2 linked regions of the Homo sapiens genome follow. The protein of the gene in region 1 interacts with the protein of each later gene in a pairwise test. Each region holds a gene or a part of one and is shown on either strand. Other genes may lie near its edges.

Region 1 (15,377 bases):
AAAAAAGTATAAAATTAGCCAGGCATAGTGGTCCATGCCTGTGGTCCCAGCTACTCGGGAGGCTGAGGGAGGAGAATCACTTGAACTCAGGAGTTCAAGGCTGCAGTGAGCTATGATTGCACTACTGCACTGCAGCCTGGGCAGCAGAGAGAGACTATCTCTGAAAAAAATAAGAGGCTGGGTGTGGTGGCTTACACCTGTAATCCCAGCACTTTGGGAGGCTGAAGAGGGTGAATCACTTGAGGCCAGGAGTTTGAGACCAGCCTGGTCAACATGGCGAAACCCCTTATCTACTAAAAATACAAAAAATTAGCCATGTGTGGTGGTGCGCACCTGTAATCCCAGCAACTCGGGAGTCTGAGGCAGGAGAACCGCTTGAACCCAGGAGGCGGAGGTTGCAGTCAGCCGAAATTGTGCCACTGCGTTACAGCCTAGGTGACAGAGTGTGATTCTGTCTCAGAAAAAAAATAGGACAGGCTTCAGAACCGGAACAGGTTCTAAGCACTCTGGCCTGCAACGTGATCAGGCAATATTTATGGACAAAACAAAAGTGAGATACAGAAATAGTTTAATTGGTTGCAGCTTGGCATTTTGCCTTATTTAAATCAGCTGGTGACCTGTGATTGACCGAAGATGGGATTCTGTAGTTGACTGAGACTCAGCTGTTTGTTACTGGAGTACAAATTGCCCTAAGTTAGAAGAATTTGTACAGTTAGTTTTCATACTATTAGGTTGTAGTTCCTTATGTACTGACTCGAGTATGGAGGCATCCTCAGGCCAAGTTTAGTTTAGTTTAACAATTGGAACTCTTTCTTTTTTTTTTTTTTTGAGATGGAGTCTCGCTCTGTTGCCCAGGCTGGAGTGCAGTGGCACGATCTTGGCTCACTGCAAGCTCCATCTCCTAGGTTCATGCCATTCTCCTGCCTCAGCCTCCCGAGTAGCTGGGACTACAGGCGCCCATCACCACGCCCAGGTACTTTTTTTGTATTTTTAGTAGAGACGGGTTTCACCATGTTAGCCAGGATGGTCTCGATCTCCTGACCTCGTGATCTGCCCGCCTCGGCCTCCCAAAGTGGTGGGATTACAGGCATGAGCCACTGCGCCCGGCCAACAATTGTAACTCTTATTTGAATTCTTTGAAGAGTTTGTAGATGTATACTACTACACTGCTACAAGTTCAGCTATAATGAACTTGGAGTAAATAATGAAGTCACAGTGCCAGAAAAACTTAGTGATCAAGCACAGTTAAGTTTATTAGGCCTGATACACGTAGGAGAAAGTGCCTCCTTGACAAAGTCTTAGTTGTGTCTCAGAATAGAGAAATTAGGAAATGGTGTTTATAGGATTTTAGGGCCTTGGCTGGATCATTTTAAGGTAGGTCTTGGCAAGGTATGTCCCTATTTGGGATTGGACAGTTATGACATTGTAGACATAAAGAGGGCAAGGGTTTTGAACCAAGTCTTGGTGAGTAAGCTGTTTAGTTGGTTCCCAGTGTTATCTTCCAAGAATCGTATATTCTAGATTGTATCTTCCAGATGTATCCTGGAGCAAGCAGCTAAGTCACTTTTGTTTGGTCTCAATGTTGTTTAACACAGGGATAAAAATACTGGTTTTTATTTTCAAAAGTAAGACCTGAATTAATTTACATGGACCTTTTGTTTGTTTCAGCTTTGCCCGAAGTTTTTACATACAAATTCTACTAGTCACACCTGGCCATTCAGTGCAGTTGCTGAATTAATAGGTATGTAGTTTGACATTTCATATACCATTTGTTGCTTACAATTGTAGTGTTTTTTTTTTTGTTTTGTTTTGTTTTTTTTTTTTAAACAGAGTCTCTCTCTGTCGCCCAGGCTGGAGTGCAGTGGCGCAGTCTCGGCTCACTGCAAGCTCTGCCTCCTGGGTACACGCTATTCTCCTGCCTCAGCCTCCTGAGTAGCTGGGACTACAGGCACCTGCCACCACGACCAGCTAATTTTTTTGTATTTTTTTTTAGTAGAGACGGGGTTTCACTGTGTTAGCCAGGATGGTCTCGATCTCCTGACCTCGTGATCCGCCTGCCTCAGCCTCCCAAAGTGCTGGGATTACAGGTGTGAGCCACCGCACCCGGCCTACAAAAATATTTTAAAAATCAGCTGGGTATGGTGGTGCAGGCCTGTGGTCCCGGCTACTCAGGAGGCTGAGGTGGGAGGATCACGTGAGACCGGGAAGTTGAGGCTGCAATGAGCCGTGATTGTGCCATTGCATTCCAGCCTGGGCAGGCGACAAAGCAAGAAAAAAAACAGATACCTTGAATGATAACATTAATGATAAAAATTGCATAGCATAACAGCTATTCACATGGATGTCAGATTAGTCACTGTTCAGCTTTCTCTTTAATACTACCCAAGTATTTCATAGTGTTTAGGATTTACTTTGCTAAGTTCCTGAAGTGTTTATATTGAAAATATTTTTATTTTTATTATAAAAGTAAACAGTGAGAATTATGGGGAATTTGTTTGCTTATTTTGAGATGAGGTCTCACCATGTTGTCCAGGCTGGTCTCAAACTCCTGGGCTCAGGCGATCCTCCCACCTCAGCCTCAGGAGTATCTGGGATGACAAGTGTGCACCACAGTGACTGGCAGAATTATGTTTATTAGTAGTACAAAAGTATGTGTAACATACAGCATGGATTCATTTTTCTGGTATCAATAGGAGGATTGGTATTGTGTTAGATATGTAATAAGTTCTTGCTTCTTTCAATAAATGGGAAGTTTAAGGTTTAGGATTGTATTTTAACAGCATTTCAATGAACGTGAGAAAGCGGCAAGGTTGCGGTCTGATTTGCATTTATGGGTCATGATTTTTTTCTTGGGAAAAATTCATGCATAGGCTGGGCACACAGTTGTTCACACCTGTAATCCCAACACTTTGGGAGGCTGAGGCAGGAGGATCACATGAGCCCAGGAGTTGGGGCCCACCCTGAGAAACATAGTGGGACCCCATCTCTACAAAAAATACAAAAATTCGCCAGGGTGGTGGTGCACACCTGTAGTCCTAGTGACTCGGGAGTCTGAGGTGGGAGGATCACTCGAGCCAGGGAAGTCAAGGCTGCAGCAGAGTGAGTCTTCCTCCAGCCTGGGCTACAGTGAGACCCTGTCTCCAGAAAAAAGGAAAAGAAAAAGAAAAGAAAAATTCATGCACACAAACATAAGCCTAATTGAAAAATTTAGGCATATGTTTAAGAAACAGATAATAAAGGGAAATTGTATTCTTAGGAATTCTTAGATATATTTTAGAATCTTTATCAAGGAAGGGTTCTATCATAGATGGAAGATAAAAGAAAAAGAAGGAATTTTTTTTTTTTTTTTTTTTTTTGAGGCAGAGTCTCGCTCTGTCACCCAGGCTGGAGTGCAGTGGCACAGTCTCGGCTCACTGCAACCTCCTCTACCTCCTGGGTTCAAGCACTTGTCCCTCAGCCTCCCGAGTAGCTGGGACTACAGGCACATGCCACCGCTCCTGGCTAATTTTTGTATTTTTAGTAGAGACAGGGTTTCACCATATTGGTCAGGCTTGTCTCGAACTCCTGACCTCAGGTGATCCACCCACCTCTGCCTCCCAAACTGCTGGGATTACAGGCATGAGCCGCTGCGCCCAGCCCTATTTTTCATTTTTAAACGTATTTCTTCCTACACCTATTCTGAGAGAAATGAGTATGCTAAACAAGGATGTTAAATGGAGAAGTATACAGAAATAAAAATGTAAAAGCCACCAGAAACTTGGTTTAACTTGGTTAAACTGAAAAGGATCACAATTTAAAGAAATAGTAGAAAGTAAATCTTCCATCCTTGTATGTAACTTAGCAGAAAATGTTGCTGCCTTTTCATTTATTTATTGATTATTGTGTACCTTCCATTGACACTCAGATCTCTTTCCCCTACAATAGCCAGGTTAGTCTCTCTCTTTTTTTCTTTTTTTTCCATTTTTGAGACGGAGTCTCGCTCTTGTTGCCCAGGCTCGAGTGCAATGGCGCTATCTCAGCTCATTGCAACCTCCGCCTCCTGGGTTCAAGCAATTCTCCTGCCTCAGCCTCCTGAGTAGCTGGGATTATAGGTGCCCGCCACCATGCCTGGCTAATTTTTTTTTTTTTTTTTTAATACAGATGGGATTTCACCCTGTCGGCCAGGCTGGTCTCAAACTCCTGACCTCAGGTGATCTGCCCACCTCAGCCTCCCAGAGTGCTGGGATTACAGGCGTAAGTCACCATGGTCAGCTTTTTTGTTTTTGTTTTTGTTTTTGTTTTTGGAGACAGAGTCTTGCTGTGTTGCCCAGGCTAGAGTGCAGTGGCACGATCTCCGCTCACTGCAACCTCTGCCTCCCAGGCTCGAGCGATTCTCCTGTCTTAGCCTCTGGATTAGCTGGGACTATAGGCATGTGCCACCATGCCTGGCGGATTTTTGTATTTTTTAGTAGAGATGGGGTTTCACCATGTTGGCCAGGCTGATCTCAAACTCCTGACCTCAGGTGATCTGCCCGCCTCAGCCTCCCAAAGTGCTGGGATTACAGGCGTGAGCCACCACATGCAGACTTAGTCCATCTTTTAATCATCTCTGCAGTGTAGTGATTTTTCTTCCTTTGTACTTCTTTGGTGTGCTGGGTACCAGTCTTTGCTGTCTCTTTAACATGGAGGGTGTTAATTCTATAATAGTCGATTAATATATACCAGGATGCAGTTTATTTTCATGTTTTTAAATCTTATTTTCATGTTTAAAATCTTTAAATTTTAAAGCTGCTAAAAATTGCAGCTTTTAAAGTTGTCTTAAAACATAGTCTTCTATTGCTTCTTACAGGATTGTTCTGAACTAATTGCTCTTTTTAAAGTGTAAAATCAGAATTTCTTCAAACTTGTGTTTCCCAGATAATGCTTATGATCCTGATGTGAACGCTAAACAAATATGGATTGACAAAACAGTGATAAATGACCATATATGCTTGACATTCACCGACAATGGGAATGGTATGACTTCTGATAAATTACATAAAATGCTAAGGTAGGTAAAAATGTGCCACACTTCTTAAAATTGTTGCTTTTACCTAAAGGGTTTTCCATGCCATACTTACTATTCTTGGTTTTTGTTTTTTGAAATGAAATGCTGTATGTACAGTGTGAGCTGTTCTCTAAGCATGATTTTCTACTACTGGTAGATGATGAGTCAGTCTTCACCACTGTCATCACCTACCCCACCCTACTTCCAACTCCCTAAAAGTCCACCATTCCTTTAGAGTTGTAGTATATTTATATCAATTACTGATAACTTTAGTGTAAATTAGGTTTAACCATTGTTTGTAATAAAACCTACCACTTTGTTGGGAGTAACTTTTAGAGGAAGAGATTCATGGGGTGAAATCTCACAGTCCCGGAAGCATGGGTTATACTCAGCTATTTAGTCAGGGTGTGCCAGCGATGAGTTTGCATGTTAGTACTTGTGATCCTTTTTCTCCCCTGTGATGTAGATTTGGTTTCCTTATTTCAGAGCTGGGAAAACACGTCAAGATAGATTAAAAGTAATCTGCCCGATACATAAAAAATCAACAACAACAAAAAAGTAATCTGCCCAAGATTATACAGCTAGGAAGGGTGAGGCCAGTATTTGAACCCAGGCTTTTTACTTGGTATTACAATTAATGAATTAAAAAAAAAGATTATAGGTATTTATTTATTTATTTATTTTTGATTATAGGTATTTATTTTTAAAAATCTTTATTTTCTTCTTAGCTTTGGCTTCAGTGACAAAGTCACCATGAATGGTCATGTCCCAGTTGGATTATATGGGAATGGCTTCAAGTCGGGTTCTATGCGTCTGGGTAAAGACGCAATCGTTTTTACCAAAAATGGAGAAAGCATGAGCGTGGGCCTTTTGTCTCAGACCTACTTGGAAGTCATAAAAGCGGAGCATGTTGTTGTTCCAATAGTGGCATTCAACAAGCACCATATCCTTTTGGTTGTGAAATAAAAGCTGTGGAGAAACTGAAGAAATAATTTGGAAACATTCTATGTTTTTGCCTTCTTCCAGATTATTCCCTTTGAATAACACCTATTCCATTTCTTACCTCTGTCCTCTGCATTTACCCTACACCTGAGGCTAAGGGTTTGTCCCTTTCTCTTCTCTGTTGGAATCCTGCTATGGAAATACTCAACATTTTATGTTAAACTTCCCATAGCTCTTCTGTTTACTTCAGGGTTATTGTAGACTAGTAAGACTTTATGGTTTGGCTTGAAAATTTGACTAGTGACCACAAAAGGCAGGATAACTTTAGGAAAATGCCTTTTGTATGAACACATTGGAATATTAGAAAGTATTAAGTTAGTTAGGAATAATAATCTGCTTATTTTTTATTCTTCTTCTTGTTCATTTGAAATCAAACTGCCATGTTAAAACTTAGAAAATAGGCTGAGCTCGGTGGCTGATCCCTGAAATTCCACCACTTTGGGAGGCCAAGACAGAAGGATTGCTTGAGCCCGGAATTTTGAGACCAGCCCAAGCAACGTAGGGAGACCCTATCTCTACAAAAAAAATTTAAAAATTAGCCGGTCGTGGTGGTGGGTGCCTGTGGTCGGTCCCAGCTAGGCTGCAGTTAGCCCTGATCATGTTACTGCACTCTAGCCTAAGCAATAGTGAGACCCTATCTCACAAAAAAAAAAACCTTAGAAAATTATTTATAAATAGTTTTTCTGTTATTTAAGTTTATAGAGTTAGTTTTCATATTGTAATTATGAAAACTATGTTGTCAATCTGAGTCTTTAACTTATGATATACGACAGATGATTAATTTAGCAGAATCAAAAGCCAGCCTTGCTGCAATTCTGGAACATTCTCTGTTTTCCACGGAACAGAAGTTACTGGCAGAACTTGATGCTATTATAGGCAAGAAGGGGACGAGGATCATCATTTGGAATCTTAGAAGGTAAACGTGGACATAGATGTTGACCGTTTGGGAAGTAAAGTGCACGTGCAGGGTGGTGGTGTTATATTCATCTCTCGTTACACACAGTAGAAATACATGGAAAGGTACTCATTTTTTGGTGTAGTTACTGATTTGTCTTTGCCCAGGATATGTTATAGAGGCCATTTCAGCTTCAATTTGAGATATTTTCATCTTGTTAAAAAAAATTTTTTTTTGAGACGAAGTCTCACTCTTGTTCCCCAGGCTGGAATGCGATGGCGCAATCTCAGCTGACTGCAGCCTCCGCCTCCTAGGTTTAAGCGATTCTCCTGCTTCAGTCCCCCGAGTAGCTGGGATTACAGTCGCCTGCCACCATGCCCGGCTAACTTTTGTATTTTAGTTGAGACAGGGTTTCACCATGTTGGCCAGGCTGGTCTAGAACTCCTGACCTCAGGTGATCCACCCGCCTTGGCCTCCCAAAGTGCTGGGATTACAGGCGTGAGCCACCACACCCGGCCAAAAAAAAAAATTTTTTTCTATCCCTGCCATTCAGTCTCCATTAGCACTCTATTCTCTCTCATTTATTCCACCCCGTCTTCTCAAAAAAAAAAAAAAAAAAAGAAAAAAGAAAAAAAGCAATGAGAAGACAAATTCAGGAGGATAAATCTTTCTTCATTGTGTACATTACTTAAAACTAAAAGTGATGTAGCACCTGATGAGAAAAGTAATATAGGTGAGATTTTTGTGTTGCTAAAATTTATAATCCTTTATCTTTGTGAGGATAAAATCCTTCGCAAATAAATTTTAAAATTTAAGACTAATGTCTAATACTGAAAGATCTAAGACATACTGAATCACAGGAATAAAGCACAGGTAGTGATAAGCCTAAAGAACTGAAAAAACTTGTGCTATTCTGATACCTGAATTCGTTTTTCTTGCTTTCACTTCCCTACCCCTCCTTCTCCTGGAGGATTTTTTCAATTATACTTTCTGAGGTAATTGTAGATTCATGTGTAGTTGTAAGAAGTAATAGAGAGATGTTAGGTACACTTCATTCAGTTTCCCCTGCTGGTAACATCTAACAAAACTATAGTACAGCCAGGCACACTGGCTCACACCTGTAATCCCAGCACTTTGGGAGGCTGAGGCGGGTGGATCATGAGGTCAGGAGATCGAGACCATCCTGGCTAACACGGCGAAACCCTGTCTCTACTAAAATTACAAAAAATTAGCTGGGCGCGGTGGCGGGCGCCTGTAGTCCCAGCTACTAAGGAGGCTGAGGCAGGAGAATGGCGTGAACCAGGGAGGCGGAGCTTGCAGTGAGCCGAGATAGCACCACTGCACTCCAGCCTGGGCGAAAGAGCGAGACTCTGTCTCAAAAAAAAAAAAAAAAACTATAGTACAGTAGTACTATTGATATTGACAGGATTTTGATGTTGATACAGTCAAGATGCAGGACACTTTAGTCATCACAGGAATCCCTCATGTTGCTCTTTTGTAGCCATACCCACTTCCCTCATAACCCCACTCCCTCCTTAATCCGTGGCAACCTCTAATCTGTTCTCTATTTCTATAATTTTGCCATTTTAAGAATATTACATAAACAACATGGAAACCTTTTGGATTTGACTTTTTTCACTTAGCATAACTCCTGGCGTTTTCCAGGTTCTTGTATGTATAGTTTGCACCTTTTCCTTTTTCTTTTTTTTTTCTTTCTTTTCTTTTCTTTCTTTCTTTCTTTTTTTTTTTTTTGAGATAGCGTTTTGCTCTTTCCCCCAGGGTGGAGTGAAGTATAGCGCCATCTCGGCTCACTGCAACCTCCGCCCACCGGGTTCAAGCGATTCTGCTGCCTCATCCTCCCGTGTGGCTGGGATTATAGGCACCTGCCACCATGCCTGGCTGATTTTTGTGTTTTTAGTAGAGACAGGGTTTTGCCATATTGACCAGGCTGGTCTTGAACTTCTGACCTCAGGTGATCCACATGCCTCAGCCTCCCAAAGTGGTAGGATTACAGGCGTGAGCCACTGCACCCAGCCAGTTTGCACTTTTTTCTTGCTGAGTAGTGTTTCATTGTATGTATGGAACCCAGTGTGTTTACCTATTCAAGACATCTAGGTTTGTAGTTTTGGGATATTACAAATAAAGCTGTAAACATTTGTGTACACAGTTTTGTGGGAATATAGTCTTCATTTTTCTGAAATAAATATCTAGAAGTGTAATTGCTGTATCATATAGTACTTGCATTTTATTTTCTAAGAAATGCCAGACTGTTTTCCTGAGTGTTTTCCTACCAGCAGTGTATGAGTGTTACAGTTTCTCCACATCATCCAGGATCCGTTTTCTTTCTTTTTCTCTTGCCTTTGCACCCCCAACCCCCCACTGACGTGCACCATGTGTAGGTTTATTTATTTGCTTACCTTTTTAATGACTTACAGTGTTTGCTGGCTTATCTTGCTGTGAAGTTAAATTTTGGTTCTTTCTAAAAATTATTTTTACAGCTACAAAAATGCAACAGAGTTCGATTTTGAAAAGGATAAATATGATATCAGAATTCCCGAGGATTTAGATGAGATAACAGGGAAGAAGGGGTACAAGAAGCAGGAAAGGATGGACCAGATTGCCCCTGAGAGTGACTATTCCCTGAGGGTATGTATTCAGCTCTCTTTGTGGAAGTGAGAAAATCATTGAATGCTGGTAGTATTAGGAGAGGTCATGTTACCTGCTTGTGATAGAAAGGCTGCCAGTGCTCTCTAAATGAAAGTATCTCAGACATGATTTTCCCTGGCCCACTCAGCCTGGGCAACAGAGTGAGGCTGTATCACACACACACACAAATTTAGTTAAACTTTTCATTAGCACACTGGTTGATTTATTTGTTTGGAAACCCTTTTTAAATTATGAAGTCGTCAGGCCTAACAATGCTTGTAGTTTTTACTATATGCTGACATTATTATCTTATTAGAATCAATATATTAGTCAGTATATGGTGGCCAGACTAATTCAAAAAACAACAAATTCAAAGTCTTATTAAATTTTAACGTATTTGCCCGTGCACGGTGGTTCACACCTGTAATCCCAGCACTTTGGGAGGCCAAGGTGGGTGGATCACAAGGTCAGGAGTTCAAGACCAGCCTGGCCAAGATGGTCTTGAACTCCGTCTCTACTAAAAATGCAAAAATTAGTTGGGCACGGTGGCAGGCACCTGTAATCCCAGCTACTCGGGAGGCTGAGGCAGGAGAGTCGCTTGAACCTGCAGGTGGGGCAGTGCGGTTCACGGAGGTTGCAGTGAGCGGAGATTGTACCACTGCACTCCAGCCTAGGTGACAGAGTGAGACGCCATCACACACACACAAAAAATTTAACGTATTCTAGAATACATACCTTAATTGTCCTCCTAAAGCAATAAATTATAGACTATAGTTAGATAAGGTACATTAATATAATTTTGTGATAAATGCCTCTAGGATTTTCCCTTTAGAAATGAGGTTTTTGTTTTTTTGTTTTTCTTTTTGGAGATTAGGTCTTTGGGTGTCACTCTCTCACCCAGGCTGGAGTGCAGCGGTGAGATCTCAGCTCACTGCAGCCTCTGCCTCCTGGCCCCAAGCAATCCTTCCACCTCAGCCTCCTGAGTAGCTGGGACTGCAGGCGTGTGCCACCACACCCGGCTATTTTTTTGTATTTTTGGTAGAGACGATGTTTCACCAAGTTGTCCAGGCTGATCTCAAACTCTTGGTCTCAAGTGATCCACCTGCCTCAGCCTCCCAAAGTGCTGGGATTACAGGTGTGAGCCTCTGCACCTGGTCAAAATGAGTATCTGTTTAAGATTAAAAGAAATGGGCTAGGCACAGTGGCTCACACATGTAATCCCAGCACTTTGTGAGGCAGAGACGGGTGGATCACCTGAGGTCAGGAGTTGGAGACCAGCCTGGCCAACATGGTGAAATCCTGTCTCTACTAAAAATAGAAAAATTAGCTGGGCACGGTTGCGGGAGCCTGTGATCCCAGCGGCTTGGGAGGCTGAGGCAGGAGAATCCCTTGAACCCGGCAGGCAGAGGTTGTGGTGAGCCAAGACCGCACCATTACACTCCAGCCTGGGCAACAAGAGTGAAACTCTGTCTCAAAAAATAAAAATAAAAAAAAGATTGGAGAAATTAATATCTTGATATAATAATGTCGATAAATTAATATCAAGGTTTTTTTGTTTGTTTGTTTGAGACGGAGTTTTGTTCTTGTTGCCCAGGCTGGAGTGCAATGGCATGATCTTGGCTCACCACAGCCTCCACCTCCTGGGTTCAAGGGATTCTTCTGCCACAGCCTCCCAACTAGCTGGGATTACAGGCATGCGCCACCATGCCCGGCTAATTTTGCATTTTTAGTAGAGACAAGGTTTCACCATGTTGGCCAGACTGGTCTCGAACTCCCGACCTCAGTGATCTGCCTGCCTCGGCCTCACAAAGTGTTGGGATTACAGGTGTGAACCACCGTGCCCGGCCAATATCAAGTTTTTTAGTTGTTTTGATAAGACATGTGATACTAACTTTTTGCTTTCTTTTTTTTTTTTTTTTTGAGACAGAGTCTCACTCTGTTGCCTAGGCTGGAGTGCAGTGGCGTGATCTCGGCTCACCACAACCTCCGGCTCCTGGGTTCAAGCGATTCTTCTGGCACAGCCTCCTGAGTAGCCAGGACTACAAGCATGCACTACCCTGCCTGGCTAATTTTTGTATTTTTAGTAGAGACAGGGTTTCACTATGTTAGCCAGGCTTCTCTTGAACTCCTGACCTCGTGATCCGCCCGCCTCGGCCTCCCAAAGTGCTGGGATTACAGGAATGAGCCACCTTGCCTAGCCACTTTTTGCTTTATTTCTTGTGTTGATATTATTCTTTAATCCCAAGCTGTGGATGTATTTGTCATTTACAGATTTTTCATGTAATTTTTGCTAAGGTCTTAGCAATTACATTATTAGTAATAGTAATAGTAAATAGTAGTATTACTATTTACTAAAATAGTAAATAGCAGATATTTACTGTTCCTTGATGTATCCTAATGTGTTCCTAGTGTTGAAAAAGTCTTATTCAAGTATGAAACAGGTTCAGAGGCAGCCAGAGAAGATGGTATGGTTTTAGTACACTACAAAATACAGTGTTTTTTAAATGACGCAAAGCACCACTTCTTTTGAAATCAAGAGTCAGGAAAAGTAGGAGAAGCTTTTAAGTTTTAGTTTTGTGTTGAATCTTTTTTTTTTGAGGTGGGGGGGTCTCCCTCTGTCCCCCACACTGGAGTGCAGTGGTGTGATCTCGGCTCACTGCAGCCTCCGCCTCCATACTTGACAGAAAAATCAGAAAATGTACCTTTTTGTACATATATACATTTTTTAAAATTAAAATGTGATCATACCATACGTGCTGTTTTGTAATCTTTTTCACTTAGTAATAAATATATCAGCATCTATATAGATCAGTTGATTGTATTCTGCAAGTCATTTTTACTGGCTGCGGTATATTGAGCTTATTTTTAATGAAAAATAACCAAATCAGAATAACATACAGCTTTATAGCCTATTTTATTGAAGAGTTAATTGATCTTTTATCAAGTTAATAGGAGAGCTTCTGTGTAAATCCATGTCTAAGTAATGGTGAGCAAACCTGTAGATACTAACTTCTTGTTATGTTATTTTCCAGGCTTATTGCAGTATATTATATCTAAAGCCAAGAATGCAGATCATCCTACGTGGACAGAAAGTGAAGACACAGCTGGTTTCGAAGAGTCTTGCCTACATCGAACGTGATGTTTATCGACCAAAATTTTTAGTATCCTTTTTCTGATTCCTTATAGAGATATGTTAGTCAGGTGTATTCTCTTTTGCCCCTTTCCCCTTATATGCTGATAGGGATTCTAGTCTGCTCTAGCTTTGCCCTCCTTTGTGTGCTTTTGGACTTACCAAATAATGAAATAGAAAGGATGATTTGAACTGAGTGAGGTGTTGTGTTCAAAATTTACCTTAATATTTTAAGTCTAAAACAGTGAGAATTACCTTTGGATTCAACTGCAGAAATAAAGATCATTATGGGATAATGATGTATCACAGAAATAGACTCATCAAAGCTTATGAAAAAGTTGGATGTCAGTTAAGGGTAAGCTTTATTTTTTATTTGAAAAGAAAATGTCTATTTTCCACAAAAGTTAGGATAATATATGCTCTTGAGTCAAATGTTAAATAATTTTATTGTACCTTTTGCCTATAGCTTTTTAATGTAAATTTGTAAAAAATAACACTGTGGTATTTGAACTTTTATTAACTCCCCTCCCCTCCCCTCCCTTCCCCTCCCCTGCCCTGCCCTCTCCTTTCCTTTCCCTTCCTTTTTTTTGAGACGGAGTCTGAGTCTTGCCCAGGCTTCAGTGCAGTGGCACAATCTTGGCTAAACTCACTGCCATATTCACCTTCTGGGTTCAAGTGATTCTGCTGCCTCAGCCTCCCAAGTAGCTGGGACTACAGGTGCATGCCACCACGCCTGGTTTTTTTTGTTTTTTGTTTTTTTTTTGAGACAGAGCCTTGCTCTGTCGCCCAGGCTGGAGTGCAGTGGCGATATCTCGGCTCACTGCAGCCTCTGCCTTCTGGGTTCAAGCAATTCTCCTGCCTCAGCCTTCCAAGTAGCTGGGACTACAGGCACGTGCCGCCACGCCTGGCTAATTTTTGTATTTTTAGTAGAGGTGAGGTTTCAGTGTGTCAGCCAGCATGGTCTTGATCTCCTGACCTGGTGATCTGCCTGCCTCAGCCTCCCAAAGTTCTGGGATTACAAGCGTGTGCCACCGCACTCGGCCAGTTGTTTTGTATTTTTAGTAGAGACGAGGTTTCACCGTGTTGTCCAGGCTTGTCCCAAACTCCTGACCTCAGGTGATCCACCCGCCTCGGTCTCCCAAAGTGCTGGGATTACAGGTGTGAGCCACCGCGCCCGGCTTTATTTTTATTTTTTGAGAGACTCTACCTGGCTGGAGTGCAGTGGCGCAATTTTGGCTCACTGCAGCCTCTGACTCCCAGGTTCAAGTGATCCTCGCACCTTAGCCTCCTGAGTAGCTGTGACTACAGGTGCATGCCAGCACCTTAATTTCTTTTATTTATTTATTTGTTTGTTTATTTTTTGAGATGGAGTCTCACTCTGTCACCCAGGCTGGAGTGCAGTGGTGTGATCTCAGCTCACTGCAACCTCCACCTCCCTGGTTCAAGCGATTCTCGGGCCTTAGCCTCCCAAGTAGCTGGGACTACTGGCGTGTGCCGCTATGCCAGGCCAAATTTTGTATTTTTAGTAGAGACGGCTTTACCATGTTGACCAGGCTGGCCTCAAACTCCTGAACTCAAGTGATCCACCCACGTCGGCTTCTCAGCGTGCTCAGATTACAGGCCTGAGGCAATGCGCTCGGCCTAGTATATTAATTTTGTATTTGATCCTGAACAGCCCTGAGGTGGGGACAGAATATTTCTTTTATCCCTATTTTATGCATAAGGAAGTTGGGGACCAGACACAGTGGCTCATTCCTGTAATCCTAGTGCTTCGTGTGGCTGAGGTAGGAGGATTGCTTGAGGCCAGTGCTTCAAGACCAGCTTGGGCAACATACCAAGTCTCTACCTCAGCTGAGTACGGTGCCTTACACCTGTAATCCCAGCATATTTGAGAGGTCTGGGCCGGGGGATTGCTTGAGCCCAGGAGTTCAAGACCAGCCTGGGCAATGGGGCAAAACCCTGTCTGTACAAAAAAATACAAAAATTAGCTGGGCCTGGTGGTGCATGCCTGTGGTCCCAGCTACCAGGAGGCTGAGGTGGGAGGATTGCTTGAGCCCAAGAAGTTGAGGCTGTAGTGAGCCAAAATTGTGCCTCTGCTTTTCAGTCTAGGCAACAGGGTGAGGTCCTATCTCAAACAAACAAACAAACAAAAATCGTCTCTACAAAACAATAAAAACAAATTAGCCAGGTGTGGTTGTACGTCCTTGTAGTCTTAGTTATTTGGGAGGCTGAGGTGGGAGAGTGCTTGAGCCCTGGAGTTTGAGGCTACACTGAGCTATGATTTTTGCCCCTGTACTCCAGCCTGGGCAACAGAGTGAGACCCTGTCTCTTAAAAAAAAAAAAAAAAAAACAAAGAAATTGGGGCAAATAACAAATAGATGAAGCAAGTTGCTTAAGACATAACAGCGTGGATCTCAGACACAAACACATCATTTGACTGCATTTGGATATGGATCCATTGCATATTTTTAAGATTTTGGTGATAATTCTTTGTCTTAACTTTATTCTGAGTTTTTTGTAGAATGATGTGAGATCTACACAGTATACCAATGCAGATTCACCTTGAATACCACTTAACAGGGGTTCTGACTCTGCTTCACCTACTTTACATGGCATGAGCCCAAATATAGCATATTTGCAGAAGTAAATGAACTTTATGTCTACCACAGAATGTAAAT
Region 2 (15,377 bases), on another chromosome or scaffold:
GATTTTTCTTGGAGCATAGGAATTTAGGGAGTTGCTATACCAGTCACCCTGAACCCTGACCTCATAGGTGATTTTTGTTTCCTTAACCTTAAGGGTCAGGGCAGACACAGTGGCTCAAAACCTGTAATCTCAGTCCTTTGAGAGGCCTAGCAGGAGGATCACTTGAGCTCAGGAATTCAAGGCTGTAGTGAGCTATGATTGTGCCACTATACTTCAGCCTGGGACCTTGTATCTAGTTATTATTTATTTTTTCTTTTTTTTTCCCCTTTTTTTTTTTTTTTTTTTTTTTTTTTTTGAGATGGAGTCTCCTGTTGCCCAGGCCAGGATGCAGTGGTGCAATCTTGACTCACTGCAACATGCACGTCCCAGGTTTAGTGATTCTTGTGCCTCAGCCTCCAGAGTAGCTAGGATTACAGGTGTGTGCCACCGTGCATGACCTTTGTCTCTAATTTTTAAAAAACAGACAAAACCTTAGGATCTGTCTTAGTTTATAAAGGGGCATCTATTTTGCTTTCAGATAACACCGTAGAGCTGAAACATTTTGGAAATGGCTTTCTAAGGGTCACGTCTGATATTTCAGGCTTTGCCTGGCCCATAAGTAGACTGGATAGTACTTGTCAGGTCCTGAATATCATCCTCAGGAAAATAATATTCTGCTTCTGCTGCTTTTATCCGTTTTTACTCCCTCTCCTTCCCCTGGTCCCACCATGTGTTAGCTGGTAATAAGTCAGGTATCCTAGGATCATAAGTTATAATTAAGACTCTGAATTCTTTAAAAAATGTCTGAAAGTCTTCCCCAGGTTTAGGACATTTTTAAACTATGACCTGTTTTTATCCGTAGCATGTAAGTCAGGAATTTCATGCTACATTTTCAGGTTGTTCTGTTTTATAAGGAAACAGTTGAACTGTTCTTTTCAGAGAAGAAAGGCAACTCAGAGTTAGTAGACTGTGAATATTCAGGAGTAGATGCAGTATTCAGGTAAAATGGGAGCAGTAGGAGTTACATTAGTTTATCTGTCTTTGGTGTGGGAGGTAATCTTGCGTTTCTAGTTTTTCATTAGCTTTTTGCAGTTAATCTTTCAAAAAAGCTATTTTAGAATTCTGTTGTCTCTTTGAGGCTTCTGAATGCCAGTAAGAATCTCGTTCTCTCCGTGTAATTTGGAGTCTTAGGATTCAAGTGAATTTCTTGGATGAACACTCTTTTTCATCTGGAACATTCCACATCATGGTCATCATAATTCTGAATTATTTTTGGTAAAGTTTTGCCACTTGTGTAACTATTTGTAGCTTCTGGAGCCAGAAGTTTTATACATGAAAAGGCAAGACTACCAGAAGGCAGAGTACTCCAATTTTTAGAAATTAGGGATGCTGTTTTTATGTTGGACCTTGTATATCTCAGGACCGGGATGACGTTGGCTCCAAGATGTCCTACCTAGCCAATCACTTTGCAGTTTCCATCTGACTCAGTCAAGACACCTGAGGCCTCCCTCACCTAAGCCTGCAAGAAAAGGAATCCACATACCCACAGATTCCAAAAGCCTGAGTTTATACCCTCCCTGCACTCAACACAGCTGGTATCAGTTAGCTTTAAAACTGCACCCCTGTATGCTAGCAGCAAATGGAGTTGCACCCACATTTCTGTCTGGCCATAATCTTGGGGGCTTGACTCAAGCCGTAAAGACCTCTGCAAAGAGGGAGCAAAAAATACAGTTATTGCCAGTGATTTGTGAGCCCCCACATTCCCAAAAGTCCTGTGCCCTGCCATAGCCCAGATTAACCCTAGGTACTGCAAAGTCAAATGCTCTCTCACAGTGCAGCCTAACCTTGGTACCCTCAAAGTCAAAGAGACCAGGTGCTAAAAAGACAGCAGAGCTCAGACCTGAGAAGGACTTCCGACACTTGCAGCTCCATGAGGAAAACGTTACTTCCCAAAAAAGGGAGTTAGCCGTTTTTCCTGTGTTCCTTGAGTTACCTCAAGATATCAACAGTCTCTGTCCCTTTGGGTTGCCAGACCTGTCAAAGGACAAAATTACAACAAATTTAGTGTAAGGATCTCAACTGTCTTTATTGTGAGTCTAGCATCAGGCAATGCTTCATTCCAAAATGGAGAGTAAGTGTTCTCGTTGCTCTTTTTTTTTTTTTTTTTTTAAGACAGTCTCAATCTATCACCCAGGCTGGAGTGCAGTGGCCTGATCTCGGCTCACTGCAACATCCCGAGTTTAAGCAATTATCCTGCCTCAGCCTCCCGAGAGTAGCTGGGATTACAGGTGTGTGCCACCACACCCGGCTGATTTTTGTGTTTTTAGTAGAGATGGGGTTTCACCATGTTGGTCAGGCTGGTCTCTAACTCTTGACCTCAAGTTATCCACCCACCTCAGCCTCCCAAAGTGCTGAGATTACAGGCGTGAGCCACCGTGCCCTGCCCTTGTTGCTTTTTACATTAATTTTATACTCAATCACCTTACCATTATTATCTGTAGTGATTTTTCAGTTGACTCTTAATTTCTTGAAAACGTGCATCTGATCTGTCTTTCCAATTTTTATGCTTCTTTCACGTGTCTAATTATATTACGGTACTTCCTCAAAAATTTTAATAGTGTTGATAGAGAAGAGCACGAATGGCCACAGACATAAATGGGAATACTTAATGTTTCTTCATTAAATGTGATGGTGCCTTTTTGCTTTAGATACCATTTCTTTAGTTATGTTAAGGAACTAGTCATTTACTTTGACTTAAAAAAATTTTTTTAGAAGTGAATGTAGGATTCTGTTACATTCAATTTCAGCATCTTACAGAGATTGTCATGTGGTTTTTCTTCCTTGACCTCTTAGTTGGTAAGTTATTGTCTTTGAAAAGACTCCCCTTGGTTGTGGCATTGTAATGTAGTAGTAATGTGCTGCTGGGGATTCCATTTGCTAATATTAGTGTTTTCTCCGTAGATCTTACAGGTGGAGATTGGCCCGTAGGTTTGTGTGTACGTATGATATCCTTGACATGTTTATTTTTTTATAAGCATGATTCTGACTTCATAAAAAGTTTAGAAGTTTTCTTTTTTTTTTTTCTTTTTGGAGATGGGAGTTTTGCTCTGTCACCCAGGCTGGAGTGCAATGGCGCGATCTTGGCTCACTGCAACCTCTGCCTCCCAGGTTCAAGTGATTCTGCTGCCTCAGCCTCCCAAATAACTGGGATTACAGGCATGCGCTACCACTCCCAGCTAATTTTGTAGTTTTAGTAGAGATGGGGTTTCACCATGTTGGTCAGGCTGGTCTCAAACTTCTGACCTCAGGTGATCCATCTGCCTCAGGCTCCCAAAGTGCTGGGATTATAGGCATAAGCCAACCGTGCCTAGCCAGAAGTTTTCTTTATTTCTTCGAGGGTTGTTTTTTGTTTGTTTGTTTGTTTTGTAGAGTCTTCAGAACCAATGTATTCTTTGAGGTTTTGAATATATTCTATAGAATTAAACAAAACAGACTGTTGTTCTACTTTGTCTTAATCTGTGACTCCTTATGTTTTTTCCCTTATTTAGTTCGAATGGTTATTTGAACTAACCATTATGTGTCCCCCTCCTTCCCTTCCCTCCCTTGTTTTCCTTCCTCCTCCTCTACCAAAGAAACAGCTTCTTCTCTTCTACAACTCCAGTTATGTGTTTTGAAGACCTTTTTGTTCTTGACGTGTTCTCTTATCTAATGTTGCATTTTGTCTATGCCTTACTATGGCTATTCTGACCTGGCTTTCAATGCACTAATTTCTCTCTTCAACTGTATTTACTTAAAATGCTATATATCCATATGTAGCATTAGTTATTGTATTTTTAGTTTTTGTATTAGTTATTGTATTTTTCCATTCTGGAATTTGCGTTCGATTCTTCTTCTTCTTGGCTGCAGTTCTCAATCTAGTCTTTGATTTCCCTAAACATGCTGTTACTTTAGAATTCATGTTGTTAATTTCACTGTGTGAAACCCTTGTATATTTGTTTCTGTTGTCTGTTACTTCTCTTGTTTTGATTTTCTGTTGCTGCATTAAGTTCTTGTATGCCTAGTTATTTTTGATTGAGTGTAAGTCATTGTATATGAAAATTTTGGGATTCTGTATGATGTTGTTTCTCTATAGAGGATCTTAATTGGTTTCTTGAAGAAGAGTAAGAGCACCAGCACCTCACATTCAGGGAGTTAAACTCTCCACGCTGCGATTCAGTTCCTGGGAGGTCCAGGGTATTTCCAGCTTGGCCCTTACTTCAGTGGCATAGTCCTCAGGGACCCACCCTAAAGCCTGAGATTCACCATCTCCTTTCTTCTAGGGACTTCCCAGAGGAACTGTTGTTACCAGTTTAGCATGTATCCTTCCAGGTCTTTTCTTTGAATTTGTATGTATCCATGTGTATATACATGTGGGTACATATACATACTTTTAGAAATGATTTTGTTTGTGTCTTATTGACATATTTTAAGTAAATGGAATCATTCTGTGTATGATTTTGCAGCTTGCTTTTCTTCACTTAATGGCATTTCTTAGTGAAGCTTCCCATTTCAGTACAGACTGAGCTACCTCTTTTTTTGGTAGGGGTCAGTTGTAGAGTATTTTGTAGAACAAATAAGTAATAGTTTATTTAACCATTCACTCAGGGACAAACTTCACAATGTCTCTAGGCTTTTTTCTGTTTATGCTGAATATTCTTGTATATGCCCTTTTTCGATAGAGTTTATAGAACAGTATGAAAAAATGATGACAGACATACATTTTTTATTTATATTTATGTATTTGTGTATTTATTTATTTATTTGAGACAGAGTCTTGCTCTGTCTCCAGGCTGGAGTGCTGTGGTACCATCTTGGCTCACTGCAACCTCTTGACTCCCTGGTTCAAGCAATTCTGCTCCGTCAGCCTCCCGAGTAGCTGGGATTGCAGGCACACGCCACCATGTCCAGCTGATGTTTGTATTTTTAGTAGAGACGGATTTTCACCATGTTGGCCAGGATGGTCTCGATCTCCTGACCTCGTGATCCGCCTGCCTTGGCCTCCCTGAATGCTGGGATTACAGGCATGAGCCACCACGCCTGGCCTACGTTTTTTATTTTAATAAATAGTGCCAAATTTCTCTCCTAAATTCACCAGCAGTAAATGATAGTATAAGAATTTTCACACATCGGCCAAGCGCGGTGCCCCACACCTGTAATCCCAGCACTTTGGGAGGCTGAGGTGGGCCAGTCATCTGAGGTCAGGAGTTCAAGACCAGCCTGGCCAACATGGCAAAACCCTGTCTCTAACAAAAATAGAAAAATTAGCTGGATGTAGAGGTGTGCGCCTATAATCCCAGCTACTCGGGAGGCTGTGGCAGGATAATTGCTTGAACCTGGGAGGCAGAAGTTGGAGTGAGCTGAGATCATGCCATTGCACTCCAGCCTGGGCAATAGAGCGAGACTCTGTCTCAAAAAAAAAAAAAAAAAAAAAAAAAAAGATTTTTCACCATCCTCACCAATGCTTGGTATTATCTAATTTAAAAGTTTGCCGGTCTTACAGGGAAAAAAATACTGTCTTGTTTTAATTTTTCATTTTGCTAGTTACTAATGAGATTTAGATTTTTTTATATGTTTTTTGAACATTTCTTATTCTTCTGATGTGTTAGCATTCTTTCATTGTTGTATCTGCTGTGGAGTTATTTTTGTTTTAGTAGTCTCAGGTTAAATTATAATTCAGGGCTGGGTTCAGTGGCTCATGCCTGTAATCCCAGCACTTTGGGAGGCTGAGGGAGGCGGATCACTTGAGGCCAGGAGTTTGAGACGAGCGTGGCCAACATGGCAAAACCCCATCTCTCTTAGAAACACAAAAATTAGCTGGACATGTTGGCACATTTTTGTAATCCCAGCTACTTGGGAGGCTGAGGCACAAGAGTTGCTTGAGCCCGGGAGGCAGAGGTTGCAGTGAGCCGAGATCGCACCATTGCACTCCAGCCTGGGTAGCAGAGGAAAACTGTGTCTCAAAAATAAAAATAAATTATAATTCAAACTATATCTCAAGCTTTAATCTATGAATGACTACTTTGATTCTTACAGATAGTATATAGTGTAATCAAATTTCAGTGTTAAGATAAATGTAAAGAATAGGTATTGTTAAGGGAGATGGTGTTTTTGTTTCTTTCCTGTCCTATCTCGGAAGCTCAATATAAGTACATAAGGAGGGATAGGCATAGGAAAGAAATTGAATTATTAAAATTTCATTTTTTCTTAGACAAATAAACCTCAGAGATCACGACCCAATCTCATCAAACCAGCTGCCCAGTGGCAAGATCTGAAAAGGTTGGGAGAAGAAAGGCCTAAAAAGTCTAGAGCAGCATTTGAATCAGATAAGAGCAGCTATTTTTCAGTGTGTAACAACCCATTGTTTGATTCTGGGGCACAGGATGATTCTGAGGATGACTACGGTGAATTTCTGGATCTTGGGCCTCCTGGAATCTCTGAATTCACTAAGCCAAGTGGCCAAACAGAAAGAGAACCCAAGCCTGGACCGAGTCATAACCAAGCAGCAAATGACATTGTCAACCCCAGATCAGAGCAGAAAGTCATCATCTTGGAAGAAGGTAGCCTTCTTTACACAGAAAGCGATCCTTTGGAAACTCAGAACCAGTCATCCGAAGACTCAGAGACAGAGCTGTTATCAAATCTAGGAGAGTCAGCTGCTCTAGCAGATGATCAGGCCATCGAAGAAGACTGCTGGTTAGATCATCCTTACTTCCAGTCTCTGAACCAACAGCCCCGTGAAATAACAAACCAGGTCGTTCCTCAGGAACGGCAGCCTGAAGCAGAACTGGGCCGCTTGTTGTTTCAGCATGAATTCCCAGGGCCCGCTTTTCCAAGGCCGGAACCCCAGCAAGGTGGGATTTCAGGCCCCTCTTCTCCTCAGCCTGCCCATCCTCTAGGAGAGTTTGAAGACCAGCAGTTAGCAAGTGATGATGAAGAGCCAGGTCCAGCCTTTCCAATGCAAGAATCTCAAGAGCCCAATTTGGAAAACATTTGGGGGCAAGAAGCTGCAGAGGTAGATCAAGAGCTCGTTGAACTACTAGTGAAAGAAACGGTAAGTTTTATTTTATCAAGTAAATGTAGACACTACATATACTGAGTTTTTTTCTTTTTTTTTTTTCATTGCAAAAAAAAAAGTTGTTGGTATGCGTGGACTTCATTTTCCTAAGAAGTATATATCTAGATGTACAGAATAGAAGAGACACTCTGAAGACATGAAAATGGAATCAGGGTTCCTTTACTATACTTAACCTTCAGGAAGCTCTCTGGGATTCTAACTGCATATCATGGTGGCCTGGTGCTGTCATACCTGCAGTCCCTTGTTTTTTTCAAATTCCTTGAGTTCACTCCAAATGGAAACCCTTAAAGCAGTTTTATTGAATTACCTAGACCTATGCTGTCCAATATGGCACTTACTAGCTCCTTGTGGCTGTTTACATTTAAATGTCTTACAGTTAAATAAAATTTTCCAGTGGCATCAGTCACATCTTAACCTTAGTAGCCACATGAGGCTAACAGCTTACCTCATCATCAAGCATGGAGGACAGTGTTTCTGTCATCCAACAAAGTTCTATTAGTGGTGATATTAAGAGTAACACAAGGGCTGGGCGTGCTGGCTCACACCTGTAATCCCAGCACTTTGGGAGGCCAAGGTGGGTGGATCACAAGATCAGGATATCAAGACCATCCTGGCTAACACGGTGAAACCCTGTCTCTACTAAAAAAATTAAAAATTAGCCGGGCGTGGTGGCGGGCGCCTGTAGTCCCAACTTCTTGGGAGGCTGAGGCAGGAGAATGGTGTGAACCCAGGAGGCAGAGCTTGCAGTGAGTCAGGATCGTGCCACTGCACTCCAGCCTGGGCGACAGAGTGAGACTCTATCTCACAAAAAAAAAAAAAAAAAAAAAAAAAAAAAAAAAAAAAAGGTGTTACATCTGGTAGCCACTATTTGCCTTCAAACAAGTCCGTTAACCCTACTTTACCCAGGCGGGTTTTTTTTGTTTTGTTTTTGGTTTGTTTTTTTTTTGAGACCGAGTCTCACTCTGTCACCCAGGCTGGGGTACAGTGGTGCGATCTCAGCTCACTGCAACCTCCGCCTCCTGGGTTCAAGCGATTCTTCTGTCTCTGCCTCCCGAGTAGCTGGGATCACAGGCACATACCACCACGTCTGGCTAATTTTTGTATTTTTTTAGTAGAGACGGGGTTTCACCATGTTGGCCAGGCTGGTTTTGAACTCCTGACCTCAGGTGATCCGCCTGCCTCGACCTCCCAAAGTGCTTCGATTATAGGCATGAGCCACTGCACCCGGCCACCCAGGTGTTTTTATCTAGGCACTAGGTTGTGTGCTGCTTGAGGGCTGGCATGAGATTGTAACTTATTTGTGTTTGGATTCCCTTTGTCTAGACAGAGATGCTCAATATTTGTTGAAGCAATGAAGAATGGATCTGTAAAATGGGGACAGAGAACCAGATCTCTCAAGACCTTTCTAGACCTCATCTTCTATGTAGACAGATGAATCTGGGAACTAGTGTTGAATTTGAAGACACACACAGACCTGCTTCACAGCCCTTTTCTAGTCTTTAGTCATTTTATTATACTTTTTGCCATCTGTCTTGTATTGCCATTTGAAACCATTCTAGTGAATGAAATATAAATTATGTTCTTATTTGTTTCTAGGAAGCAAGATTTCCAGATGTAGCAAATGGGTTTATTGAGGAAATAATTCATTTTAAGAATTATTATGATCTGAATGTGTAAGTATACTACCATGCTTTTTTTGTGGTGGTGGTGGTGGTGGTAAAATATATGTAATAAAAAATTTACCATTTTAATCATTTTTAAATATACAATTTGGTGTTGTTAAGTAAATTCACATTATTATGCAACTATCACCACCATCCATCTTCAGAACTCTTTCATCTTCTCAAACTGAAACTCTGTCCGCATTAAACACTCACTCCCCATCCCCTTCCCAAGCCAGTGGCACCCACCATCCTACTTTCTTTCTATATGGATTTGGCTACTATCAGGGACCTCATGTGTTTGTTCTTTTCTGACTGGCTTATTTCACTTGGCATTATGTCTTTTTTAATGACCTTGTTCGTTCTGACATTAGTGATACACAGACTGTTTTCTGGATTTTATGGAATACTGCATGGTTATAGAATTATGATAACTGAGTTGTTTCTAAGCGTTGATACTACCTGTGTTTTAGTCAAGATGTTAAGACATTTTCTTCCCTACGATTGTAACAAAATGTTCTGCAACCACTCTGTTTGGAGAAATACATGGAAGCATTTTTTTTTTTTTTTTTTTTTTTTTGAGACGGAGTCTCACTCTGTCTCCCAGACTGGAGTCCAGTGGTGCGATCTCGGCTCACTGCAAGCTCCGCCTCCCAGGTTCAGGCCATTCTCCTGCCTCAGCCTCCCGAGTAGCTGGGACTACAGGCGCCTGCCAGCACGCCTGGCTAATTTTGTGTATTTTTAGTAGAGATGGGGTTTCACCATGTTAGCCAGGATGGTCTCGATCTCCTGACCTCGTGATCCACCCGCCTCGGCCTCCCAAAGTGCTGGGATTACAGGTGTGAGCCACCGCTCCCAGCCATATTTCTTAATTTTCATTATAAAAGGGATAAATACGGGCCAGACATATGGTTCACACCTTTAATTCTGGCACTTTGGGAGGCTGAGGCAAGAGGATTGCCTGAGTCCAGGAATTCAAGGCTGCAGTGAGCTGTGTTACGCTACTGCACTCCAGCCTGGGAGCCAGAGTGGGACCTTGTCTCTTATTTTAAAAAAATTTTTTATAAGTGGTAAATATGCTTTTTTAAAAAATAAGTTTTCCTGAAGAATATAAAATGAAAAATATACTCTTTCCCCTCCTTCTAATCTGCAGAGGTGAAATAATTGTAATTTTTTTTTTTTTTTTTTTTTTTTTTTTTTGGAGACAGTCTTATTCTGTTGCCCAGGCTAGAGTGCAGTGGTGCGATCTTGGCTTAAACAGCAGTCTCCACCTCCCAGGTTCAAGCAGTTCTCCTGCTCAGTCTCCTGAGTAGCTGGCATTACAGGCGTACTCCACCCTGTCCGGCTAATTTTTGTATTTTTAGTAGAGACAGGGTTTCATCATGTTGGTCAGGCTGGTCTTGAAACCCTGACCTCATGATCTGCTCACCTCCACCTCTCAAAGTGCTGGGATTACAGCCATAAGCCACCGTGCTCAGCCTGGTGGTAAATTTAAACAAAATAGTTCACTAAACACCTTTCCCCAAAGTTCCTATCTTATACTGTAGTTCTCAGTCAAGGTTGCAGGTGAGTTTCTTCCCTGCCAAGGCTGAGAAGGAAGGGCCCCTTTCCAGGTGCTTAGCCCAATGTAGGTACTTTTTTCTAATTTGTACAATGACACTGTTGGAGCCATTAGTGGCCTTGTCTGATCCCACCTCTGTACAGAGGCAACCACTGTCATCAGATTTATATTTATTTATTTATTATTATTATTATTATTATTATTTTTAATTGATCATTCTTGGTTGTTTCTCGCAGAGGGGGATTAGGCAGGGTCACAGGACAATAGTGGAGGGAAGGTCAGCAGATAAACAAGTGAACAAAGGTCTCTGGTTTTCCTAGGCAGAGGACCCTGGGGTCTTCCGCAGTGTTTGTGTCCCTGGGTACTTGAGATTAGGGAGTGGTGATGACTCTTAACAAGCATGCTGCCTTCAAGCATGTGTTTAACACAGCACATCTTGCACCGCCCTTATTCCATTTAACCCTGAGTGGACACAGCACATGTTTCAGAGAGCACTGGGTTGGGGGTAAGGTAATAGATCAACAGCATCCCAAGGCGGAAGAATTTTTCTTAGTACAGAACAAAATGGAGTCTCCTATGTCTACTTCTTTCTACACAGACACAGCAACAATCTGATTTCTCTATCTTTTCCCCACATTTCCCCCTTTTCTATTCGACACAGCTGTCATCGTCATCATGGCCCGTTCTCAATAAGCTGTTGGGAACACCTCCCAGACGGGGTGGCGGCCGGGCAGAGGGGCTCCTCACTTCCCAGAAGGGGCAGCCGGGCAGAGGTGCTCCCCACCTCCCGGACGGGGCGGCTGCCGGGCGGAGGGGCTCCTCACTTCCCGGACGGGGCGGCTGCCGGGCGGAGGGGCTCCTCACTTCTCAGATGGGGTGGCTGCGGGGCGGAGGGGCTCCTCACTTCTCAGACGGGGCGGCCGGGCAGAGACGCTGCTCACCTCCCAGATGGGGTCGCAGCCTGGCAGAGGCGCTCCTCACATCCCAGATGGGGCGGCGGGGCAGAGGCGCTCCCCACGTCTCAGATGATGGGTGGCCCGGCAGAGACGCTCCTCACTTCCTAGAAGGGATGGTGGCCGGGAAGAGGCGCTCCTCACTTCCCAGACTGGGCAGCCGGGCAGAGGGGCTCCTCATATCCCAGACGATGGGCGGCCAGGCAGAGACGCTCCTCACTTCCCAGACGGGGTGGCGGCCGGGCAGAGGCTGAAATCTCGGCACTTTGGGAGGCCAAGGCAGGCGGCTGGGAGGTGGAGGTTGTAGCGAGCCGAGATCGCGCCACTGCACTGCAGCCTGGGCAACACTGAGCACTGAGTGAACGAGACTCCATCTGCAATCCCGGCACCTCGGGAGGCCGAGGCTGGCAGATCAGTCCCGGTTAGGAGCTGGAGACCAGCCCGGCCAACACAGCGAAACCCCATCTCCACCAAAAAAAAATACGAAAACCAGTCAGGCGTGGCGGCGCGCACCTGCAATCACAGGCACTCGGCAGGCTGAGGCAGGAGAATCAGGCAGGGAGGTTGCAGTGAGCAGAGATGGCAGCAGTACAGTCCAGCTTCGGCTGGGCATCAGAGGGAGACTGTGGGGAGAGGGACAGGGACAGGGACAGGGAGAGGGAGAGCTATTTATTTATTTTTGAGACGGAGTCTCACTCTGTCACCTAGGCTAGAGTGCAGTGGTGTGATCTCAGCTCACTGCAGCCTCCATCTCCCAGGTTCAAGTGATTCTCCTGCCTCAGCCTCCCAAGTAGCTGGGATTACAGGCATGCGCCATCATGTCTGGCTAATTTTTGTGTTTTTAGTAGAGACAGTTTCCCTATGTTGGCCAGGCTGGTCTTGAACTCCTGACCTCAGGTGATCCATCTGCCTCGGCCTCCCAAAGTGCTGGGATTACAGGTGTGACCCACTGCACCTGGCCTTCCCTTAATCTTTATCAATTTTACTTAACATGCTTGTCAGTAAGGCAAAACCGTTAAGAGTGTACACTACCAGGCCATAGATTGGTGGTGTTGGTCAGTTCTGGAAATTTTGTAGCTGTTTCCTGTCTTCTGTAACTCTTCTCCCACAATCTCCATGTCTCTAAGTCCACCTCTTTGTCTCTGAGATGCGTTCTGGATGATTTCTTCAGGGGTGTTCTTTTAGCCCACAAATTTCTCTTCAGTAGAGTGTAATCTCCTTTTAACTCATCTACCGTGTTACTGGTTTTCAGTTATGAAATTTTAGCTTTTAATTGTCTTGGTTATTTTCCTAGAGTTTTGCTCTTTGCCTATATTTTTAATCTTTTTTTAATTTCTTTAACCAATAAACATAGCTTCTCTGTGAGTTTGATTGTTCTGATATGTTAAGTTCTTGGGAATCATATTCTGTTCTTCCTGCTGGCTCCCATGGTGCCTAGTTTTCTTGTGTATTTTCTAAATTTGACTCTAAGCTCATATCTTGAGTTCTTGATAGAGTTGGTTTCTTTAGAGATTATTGCTTTTGCTTCTTTCAAGTCCCCAAGGGCAGTGTCAGTTTGAAACGACTTTAGACTCCTGTCTTGAAGTTTTTGGATTACACAAACTCTTTTTTATTTATTTATTTTTTTTGAGACGAAGTCTCACTCTCTTGCCCAGGCTGGAGTGCAGTGGCGTGATCCTGGCTCACTGCAACCTCCGTCTTCTGGGTTCGAGCGATTCTTCTGCCTCAGCCTCCTGAGTAGCTTGGATTACAGGTGCCCACCGCCCAGCTAGTTTTTGTATTTTTAGTAGAGATAGGGTTTCACCATGTTGGCCAGGCTGGTCTCGAACTCCTGACCTCAAGTTATCCCACTGTCTCAGCCTCCCAAAGTGCTGGGAGACGTGAGCCACCATGCCCTGCAAACCTTTTATTTATTTATTTATTTATTTATTTATTTATTTATTTATTTTGAGAGAGAGTTTTGCCCTTGTCGCCCAAGCTGGAGTGCAGTGGCATGATTTCAGCTCACTGCAACCTTCGCCTCCCAGGTTCAGGTGATTCTCCTGCCTCAGTCTCCCGAATAGCTGGGATTACAGGCATGTGTTACCTCACCTGGCTTGGATTACCCAAACTCTTAAAGCATTTTTTATTTTTCAACGACAGACTCTACCTGGGTATTTAACCTTGAAAGCCATTTGGTTATTTACATGCCAGTTACTCACTCTTCTGAAGCCTTTCCACATATTCTTTATTGTGTATAGTTTTTAAACTTGGTTATTATAGAATATAATATACATAAAGAAAAATGAACAAAGTAAAGATGCACAGCTCAATAATTTATCACAAACCAAACATTTGTGTAACCACAACCCAGAAATCTTCAAGAAATAGAACGTTGCTATCCTTTTTGAACACTACATAAAGATTTTGTATAGTCTATAGTCTTTTGAGTCTGATTTCTTTTCACTCAGCATTATGTTAAGTTTATTCATGTAGGGTAGAACCACAGTTTATATATTTTCCATTGCTAAATGGTATTCCATTTATACCACTTAGCAATGAAATTTTCCATCTACTTTTGATAGGCATTTGAGTTCTGACTGTCACAAATAATGTAGCTGTGAACATTCTCCTGCTTGTCTCCTGAACTCTACTTGCCCCACACCCTGGCATCCACCTTCCTATTGGCTATGTTTGTGTCTTCCAGCAGAATTGTTTGTTGGAGATTTTTTTCCCCTCCTAAGCTTTTAAAATACTTTCTTTTTGGGTTTCTAAGTGGCATGATAATAACTACATTTTTTTAAATTACTAAGCTTTATTTTTTTAGAGCAGTTTTAGGTTTATAGGAAAATTGAGCAGCAATGACTACATTTTTACAATGAAAACTTTCTTGTAGGCTTCTACTCATCTAAAAAGCAACTTATATGTGTGAATTGCTTTAACAACTCTTCGACAATACTGAGTTATGATGTTATTTTTTGTAGTTAACTAGAGTAGGCATGAAGTAGCATAAGTGACATTTCTTTGCTAATTGGCTGTGTTTTTCAAATATTTGTTTACTAATTGTATTTCCCTTGCGTGTGAATTGTTTACTTCTCTCTTCTCTTTGAATTCCTTTTTTTTTTTTTTTTGGTTAATGTTTTCCTGGTTATGAAATGTAATACAGGTTTGTTCATTACAGAAAATGTAAATGATAGAGAAAAGTATAAACTTAGCTCATTTATAGAACAATGATTTGAATACCAGATACCATGTTTTAGTATTTTTTAACAGTTTAACCTCATAGAAATTGAGTATATTCAATGTTTTTCTCTCCTTCTGCAAATGAACATCATGTTTAAATATATCTTCAAGATTGTCTAGAAAAATCACTAAAACGTAATCAAATTGATACCTTCTCTTACAGTTCTGTTCTCCTACTTCCTGAGTCTCACACGTGTACTTATTTTTAGGGACTTGCTGACCCTCTGTGCTTTTTGTGTCACTCAGAAACAAACACTGATCCTTAAACACATTAAAATTCTCGTGAAATCCAAAAAGCAAGGGAATGTACAGTCATTGTATTGCATCTTTTCAAGCCAGTCTTGTTTTCCTGACACTGCTTTCCTTTCCATTATTCTCTGGACTCCTAGGACAGTGTTAACTCCACAACTAAACTAAAATGTTAATGGAAACTGGAAATAAGGCCCAAAGCTGAGTTGAGCAGGCTGGGATTTTGTTGTAGCTCAGTCTCAGTTGCTTTATGTGCATCTTTAAATGGCCTTCAGATGGAACCGTCTGGCCATTTTAAGCAGGAAGCCTATTCATTAGAGAACCACATGGCAGGTAATCTACTTTGGCTGGTTAACTTAGACCTTTCACTCACACGTGGTCAGCTTCAGTTGGATGAAGGCAGCAACAACTATCTAAGGGTTGAAAGGTTGGAGTACTAGCCTGGCTTACTTTGCAGGAGTGACTTCTCTAGAACTGCTAGCATGTCAGATCAGCTCAAACATGAGGTCATATGAAGAGGTGGGCAGATTGAAGTCCGACAGGCTTCCCCACTGCTTTTGCCCCAGGGTGCAGATATTAGAACAGAGGCTACCACTTGTTTCTGTAGAAGAAAAACTTTGTCCTTCATTTTCTGTGCC

What was found.
Region 2: the proteins of MORC3 (region 1) and RNF216 interact in binary tests that used the Homo sapiens proteins (3 or more experiments, as listed by UniProt).

What each region holds. Positions count from the first base shown.
Region 1 is NC_000021.9:36,331,978-36,347,354, forward strand, and holds part of MORC3 (MORC family CW-type zinc finger protein 3), read left to right. Parts: intron 1-1,668; coding exon 1,669-1,741; intron 1,742-4,896; coding exon 4,897-5,029; intron 5,030-5,754; coding exon 5,755-5,969; intron 5,970-6,796; coding exon 6,797-6,944; intron 6,945-9,421; coding exon 9,422-9,569; intron 9,570-12,601; coding exon 12,602-12,730; intron 12,731-12,934; coding exon 12,935-13,054; intron 13,055-15,377.
Region 2 is NC_000007.14:5,732,665-5,748,041, reverse strand, and holds part of RNF216 (E3 ubiquitin-protein ligase RNF216), read left to right. Parts: intron 1-6,226; coding exon 6,227-7,069; intron 7,070-8,689; coding exon 8,690-8,766; intron 8,767-15,377.